2 linked regions of the Homo sapiens genome follow. The protein of the gene in region 1 interacts with the protein of each later gene in a pairwise test. Each region holds a gene or a part of one and is shown on either strand. Other genes may lie near its edges.

What was found. The genes of interacting proteins can lie anywhere in the genome.
Region 2: the proteins of TFRC (region 1) and PAGE1 interact in binary tests that used the Homo sapiens proteins (3 or more experiments, as listed by UniProt).

The regions. Positions count from the first base shown.
Region 1 is NC_000003.12:196,054,356-196,058,114, reverse strand, and holds part of TFRC (transferrin receptor protein 1), read left to right. Parts: intron 1-2,813; coding exon 2,814-3,035; intron 3,036-3,759. UniProt on the Homo sapiens protein: Cellular uptake of iron occurs via receptor-mediated endocytosis of ligand-occupied transferrin receptor into specialized endosomes. Endosomal acidification leads to iron release.
Region 2 is NC_000023.11:49,689,385-49,693,143, forward strand, and holds part of PAGE1 (P antigen family member 1), read right to left. Parts: intron 1,991-3,759; coding exon 1,865-1,990; intron 160-1,864; coding exon 34-159; intron 1-33.

The DNA of each region.
Region 1 (3,759 bases):
AATTACTTTGAGGTAATTATTCTTGGCTACCAAGATCAATAACAAGGATGACACCAGTCCAAGGTTGACAGGCAGTTGCTAGGCAGATTTTCTCACGAGAGAAGTTTTTTGGTGCAAGGTTGCAGTGGCCTTTGTGTAAGGTTGTAGTTTTTGTAAAAAGGAAAAAAAAAAACCCTTAATCCTTGTTATCAGACATACAAGGGTGAGACCCTTCTCTTCAGGGTTGCATTTTTGTTAACACTAGTGACTCCATTTTGATTTTGACAACTTGCACATATCTTAGTTGTTGGGTTTTTTTTGTTTGTTTTTTGTTTTGTTTTTTTTTTTTTTTTTGACAATGGTGACTTGCTCTGTCACCCAGGCTGGGGTGCAGTGGCCCGATCATGGCTCACTGCAGCCTCAAGCAGTCCTCCCCCTTCAGCCTCCAAACTGTTTGGATTATAGGCAAGAGCTACTTACTACACCTGGCCATGGATCTTCTTGTGTCAACTTTGAGACCAAATTTACTGCAGTGCTTAAAATGTTTTAAGAAGTTATACACATGTGCTGGATGTGGTAGCTCACGCCTGTAATCCTGTAGCAGGACAAGCCGCAGACAAATCCCCTCAGACACCGAGTTAAAGAAGGAAGGGCTTTATTTGGCTGGGAGCTTTGGCAAGACTCACGTCTCCAAAAACTGAGCTCCCCGAGTGAGCAATTCCTGACCTTTTTAAGGGCTTACAACTAAGGGAGTCTGCGTGAGAGGGTCGTGATCAATTGGGCAAGCAGGGGGTACGTGACTGGGGGTTGCATGCACCGGTAATTAGAACAGAACAGAACAGGACGGGATTTTCACAGTGCTTTTCTATACAATGTCTGGAATCTATAGATAACATAACTGGTTAGGTCAGGGCTCGATCTTTAACCAGGACCAGGGTGCGGCAGCGCTGGGCTGTCCACCTCTGCCTTTTAGTTTTTACTTCTTCTTTCTTTGGAGGCAGAAATTGGGCATAAGACAATATGAGGGGTGGTCTCCTCCCTTAATCCCAGCACTTTGGGAGGCCAAGGAAGGCGGATTACGAAGTCAGGAGTTTGAGACTAGCCTGACCAAAATGGTGAAACCCCGTCTCTGCTAAAAATACAAAAATTAGTCGGACATAGTGGCGTGTGCCTGTAACCCCAGCTACTCAGGAGGCTGAGGCAGGAGAATCGCTTGAACCTGGGAGGCAGAGGTTGCAGTGAGCTGAGATGGAGCCACTGCACTGCAGCTTGGGTGACAGAGCAAGACCCTGTCTCAAAAAAAAAAGTTATACACATGTAATTATTGCATGTTCCTTCATTATTAGTTTTAACATAGACTTGTTAATCTCAATTAGCTTAATTAGCATTTGAGTTTATTGCTAAAACTTCTTTATGAGTTTTAATAATGAGGCTTGGCCGAGTGTGGTGGGTCATACCTGTAATCCCAGCATTTGGGAGGCCAAGGCGGGTAGATCACTTGAGGTCAGGAGTTCAAGACCAGCCTGGCCAACATGGTTAAACCCCATCTCTACTAAAAATACAAAAAAATTAGCTGGGCATGGTGGCACATGCCTATAATCCCAGCTGCTCAGGAGGCTGAGGTGGAAGAATCGCTTGAACCCAGGGGGCAGAGGTTGCAGTGAGCCGAGATCGTGCCATTGCACTCTAGCCTGGGCAACAGAGCAAGATCGTCTAACAACAACAAAAAAAAAACCAAGGCTGAATTTCTTGAGTGATTGAGCAGTGGCTATCTATTGGACAGTCCAGCTGAACAGTATTTTCCTCAGGCTGGGTGCAGTAACTCACACCTATAATTCCGGCACATTGGGTGGCTGAGGTGGGCAGATCACTTGAGGCCAGGAGTGAGACCAGCCTGGGTAACGTGCCTAGACTATATCTCTACAAAAAATTTTTTAAATTAAGTGGCCCAGTGGCCAGCTGTAGTCCCAACTCCTTGGGAGGCTGAGGCAGGGGGGTCACTTGAGCTAGGAGCTTAAGGCTGTGGGGAGCCATGATTGCATCACCACGCTCCAGCCTGGGTGACAGAGTGACCTCGTCTCAAGGCTGCAGGGAGCCATGATTGCATCACTGCACTCCAGCCTGGGTGACAGAGAGAGGCCTCGTCTCAAGGCTGCGGGGAGCTGTGATTGCATCACTGCACTCTAGCCTGGGTGACAGAGTGACCTCGTCTCAAGGCTAGAGGGAGCCATGATTGCATCACTGCACTCCAGCCTGGGTGACAGAGAGAGACCTCGTCTCAAGGCTGCAGGGAGTCATGATTGCATCGCTGCACTCTAGCCTGGGTGACAGAGACCTTGTCTCAAGGCTGCGGGGAGTCATGATTGCATTGCTGCACTCTAGCCTGGGTGACAGAGAGACCTTGTCTCAAGGCTGTGGGGAGTCGTGATTGCATCACTGCACTCTAGCCTGGGTGACAGAGAGACCTCGTCTCAAGGTATGTTTCATGTATCTTCTCTTTTTTCATTGATAAAGGCCCAAACTTCCCAGAGAGAAAAACATACAGCCTTAAGGAATTTGGCTAGAAGTCTATTCAGGGCATATGATACGATAGAACAGGGATTCTGTAGAACCTGGAAGAAAGTAGTCACTCTAGGAGTAGGTTAGCTTGAGAGAAGTAGCAAGAATGTACTTAAAGCAGCAGATAATGAGATAGAATTGGGGTAAATTGCGGTAGGAATATGTTAGAAGCAAGGGTGGAACTGTCGTCACTGTTACCTCGATGGCGAAGCCAGAATGTGAGGCTCTTGCTCTTAGAACTCACGTGAGTACCATAGCCTCGCGTTGTCTTGCAGGACACAGATTATCCTTATTTGGGTACCACCATGGACACCTATAAGGAACTGATTGAGAGGATTCCTGAGTTGAACAAAGTGGCACGAGCAGCTGCAGAGGTCGCTGGTCAGTTCGTGATTAAACTAACCCATGATGTTGAATTGAACCTGGACTATGAGAGGTACAACAGCCAACTGCTTTCATTTGTGAGGGATCTGAACCAATACAGAGCAGACATAAAGGTGAGCACTGATTCCAATTACGTTTTTATTTTGCTGAATGTCAAGTATTTTGAAATGTGATGTGTTCCTGTGTGTTCCTGTTGGAAGGGTGATTGTAGCCATAGTACATTTTAAAGTGAACTGAGGTATAATTGTATGTAGAATTGGTAACTTGTTTGAGAGAAGTCGGGAGGCTGTGGATTAGAGACCTAGGACAGAGCTCAGCAGGTGTTTCAGAATCCAGAGCAGTGTCAGGTTTTCTGTCACTCATGTCTCCCAGGCAGCCCGTCAGTAGGACACGGAATATGAAGATCTCAGCAAGGAGTTGGGCTGTGTGCCTCTCGGGCGTGACCCGGATGGAAAGACAGCACAGCTAGCAGGATTCCATCTCGTAGTGATCTGCGCATCTAAAAGTCAAATATTCTATTAAACGAAACTGATAAGCAGGGTGAGGTGGTGCATACCCGTAGCCCCAGCTACTTCTGCTGAGGCAGGAGGATTGCTGGAGTCCAGCCCAGGCAACATAGCAAAATCCCATCTCTAAATAAATTAATAAAACTAATATTAAAGTAGCTTCCAGATTGTTTTATGGTACTAGGAGTTGATTTTTAACAGATCTCTTAATTGAAGTAAATCACTGACAACCGAATCTTTTTATATCTTTTTTATTTTTATTTTTATTTTATTTTTTTTGAGAGATGAAGTCTCGCTCTTGTCCCCCAGGCTGGAATGCAATGACATGATC
Region 2 (3,759 bases), on another chromosome or scaffold:
CCCTACAATTTGCATGCCTAATGGATTGCCTACCTTCCTCAGGTGTTTTCACCTCCTCTGGATTTGGCAGGCCCAACTCCTGGACATCAGGACCATCTCCGCGCTCACACCCAGTCTTCGGGTGAACCTGTTCCTGGCTATCCGCTTCAGGCTCTGGCCCTTAAAAAAAAAAAAAAAAAAAAAAAAAAAAAATATATATATATATATATATATATATATATATATATACATATACATATATATATACATATACATATATATGTGTGTGTATATATATATATACATATACATATATGTGTGTATATATATACACATATATATGTGTATATATGTATATATGTATATATACACACATATATGTATATGTGTATATATACATATATATGTGTGTATATATACACACATATATATGTATATATATGTGTATATACACACATATATGTGTATATATGTGTGTATATACACACATATATAGGTGTGTATATATGTGTATATACACACATATATAGGTGTATATATATGTGTATATACACACATATATAGGGTGTATATATATGTGTGTATATACACACATATATATGTGTATATATATGTGTGTATATACACACATATATATGTGTATATATATGTGTGTATATACACACATATATATGTGTATATATGTGTATATATGTGTATATACACACATATATATGTGTATATATGTGTATATATGTGTATATATACACATATATATGTGTATATATACACATATATATGTGTATATATATAATCAATTTAAGCAGTAAAACATGAAATATGAACAAGAAAATAATATTCATGCTCTCAGTGTTATTAAATAAAAGCTTTCACTAGTGTAATAATAAATGTGTTGATAAGAATCCCAAGAACATGATTTCAGGAGTCTGTTGGCAGAAAACAGGAAAACAGGGTTTTCCAAATATTACCCTCTTCCTTTCCGAAGACTGCCCTCAGACAACTTTGTTGCTGCCTTTGCACTTCTTTATTATTCTACTTCTGATTGTCCTTATCATATTAAATGACTCAAGACTGAAACCCTGTCTCTCACAGCACTTACACTCCTGGCACTTAGACTCCTACATGGCATGAGTAGCCACCAATAAACGCTGAGTGAAAAAAGTTCTTTAAAAAATACATGAAAAATCCCCAAATCCTGAACATTCTGCACACCAACTTGTCTATCCTCTTCAAAAATGTCCGTATCCTGAATGACAAAGAAAAATTAAGGAAACATTCCAGATTAAAGGAAACTAGAAACACATGACAAGCACATGTAAGACGTGATCTTGAACTGGACTCTGGATCAGAAAAAGAAATTCTATAAAGGAAATTATCTGGGCCAGGCATGGTGGCTCACACCTTTAATGCCAACATTTTGGGATGCCAAGGTGGGCAGATCACTTGAGGTCGGGAGTTCAAGACCAGCCTGGCTAATGTGGTGAAATCCCGTCTCTACTAAAATACAAAAAAAAAAAAAAAAGAAACATTTATTTGTCAGGCACTGTGGCAGGGCTGTAACCTCAGGACTTTGGGAGGCTAAGCTGGGTGGATCATCTGAGGTCAGGAGTTCGACACCTGCCTGTGCAACATGACAAAACCCCGTCTCTACTAAAATTACAAAAATTAGGTGCCTGTGGTGGCATACGCCTGTAATCCTAGCTGCTCGGGAGGCTGAGGCAGGAGAATCACTTAAACCCAGCAGGTGGATGTTGCAGTGAGCCAAGATTGAGCCACTGCACTCCAGCCTGGGTGACAGAGTGAGACTCCATCTCAGAAAAAAAAGAAAATTATAATACTGTGGAAACAGACACCCTACAATTTGCATGCTTAATGGACTACCTACCTTCTGCGGGCAGTTTCATCTGCTCTTCATTTCGCAGGCACACCCTCTTGGTATCAGGACCATCTCCAAGCTCACACCCAGTCTTTGGCTGAACCAGTTCCTGGCTATCAGCTTCAGGCTCCTGCCCTTAAAGATAAAACAAAATTATCATTTTAAGCAGCAACACATGAAATATGAATAAGAAAATAATATTCATGCTCTTGGTCTTATTAAATAAAAGCTTTAGGTACTGTAATAATAAATGTGTTGATAAGAATCCCAAGAACATTATTTCAGGAGTCTGTTGGCAGAAGACAGGAAAACAGGGTTTTCCAAATATTACCCTCTTCCTTTCTGAAGACTGCCCTCAGACAACTTTGTTGCCTCCTTTGCACTTATCTGTTATTGTATTTCTGATTGTCCTTATTATATTAAATGACTCAAGGCTGACATCCTGTCTCTCATTAGCATTTAGACTCCTAGCACCTAGCAAGTTATATGGCATGAGTAGGCACCAATAAATGGTGAGTGAAAAAACAGTCTTTAGAAACTACACAAAAAAGCCCAAAGTGCTAAACGTTCCGCAAACCAACTGGTCTATCCTCTTGAAAAATGTCAGTATCAGCCAGCCGGGCGTGGTGGCTCACACCTGGAATCCCAGCACTTTGGGAGACCGAGGTGGGCGGATCATCTGAGGTCAGGAGTTAGAGACCAGCCTGGCCAACATGGTGAAACCCAGGCTCTGCTAAAAATACAAAAGAAAAAATAAATTAGGCAGGTGCGGTGGCCATTGCCTGTAGTCCCAACTACTCAGGAGGCTGAGGCATGAGAATCTCTTGAGCCTGGGAGGCAGAGTTTAGAGAGAGCCGAGATCTTGCCACTGCACTCCAACCTGGGCAACAGAGTGAGACTCCGTCTGAAAAAAAAAAATAAGAAAGAAAAAAGAAAATTATCTGGATAACTGGCAAAATCTGAGTATACTCTGTGTATTAAATGACTGCAGGTTCTCATTGTTAAATGTCCTGAGTTTGATCATTGTGCAGTGATTATCCAAGGAATGACTTTTTCTTTGTTCTGAGGATATATAAACACTTTCAAGTACTTAGGGTAAAGGGCCATAATAGCTGAAACCTTATCTGAACAATGCAGCATTAATAAGAGTAAACATAATATCCGTAAGTGTGTGTGTGAGTGTGTGGGCAGCAGGGTAAGAGAGGGAGGGAAGAGACATGAAAACAATGGAGCAGAAGCTATTAACAATTGGTGAATCTAGGTGAAAAGTATATGAGTTCATTGTACTATTCTTGCAAATTTTCTACAAATGTTATGTCTTGAAAATATATAAAGTAAAAACTTGTAAGAATATATGACAACTACACTGAACTTTAGGAAGACAGAAGTTTTTTTTTAATTGTGTTAAAAAATACACATAACATAAAATTTACCATGGTAACTAATTTTAAGTGTTATAGTTCAGTAAGGAGTTATGGTTGCAACATTACCAGCAGCTAAGAACAAACTTTACATGTTTGTTTTCCTATATAACGAAACATTTATTATTTATTTATTTATTTATTTGCGATGAGGTCTCCCTATGTTTCCCAGGCTGGTCTTGAACCCTAGGCTCAAGCGATCCTCTCACCTCAGCCTCCCAAGTAGCTGGGACTATGATTTCACAGCACTAAGCCCAGTTTGAGACCTTTCTACTAAATGACAATCTAAGGATAAACCACAGGACATGTATAATACTTATATTCGGCCATAGAGTACCAACAGCAGTGTGCATCAGCTGAGAAATCTGAAGTCTACATCATGGATAGGATTTCAGTTACAATTACAGTGTCAGTTTCTGAAGGATTGAGCAGCTGGATGGATTTGAGGACTATGGAAAATCTTACAGTCACGACACCCATTGT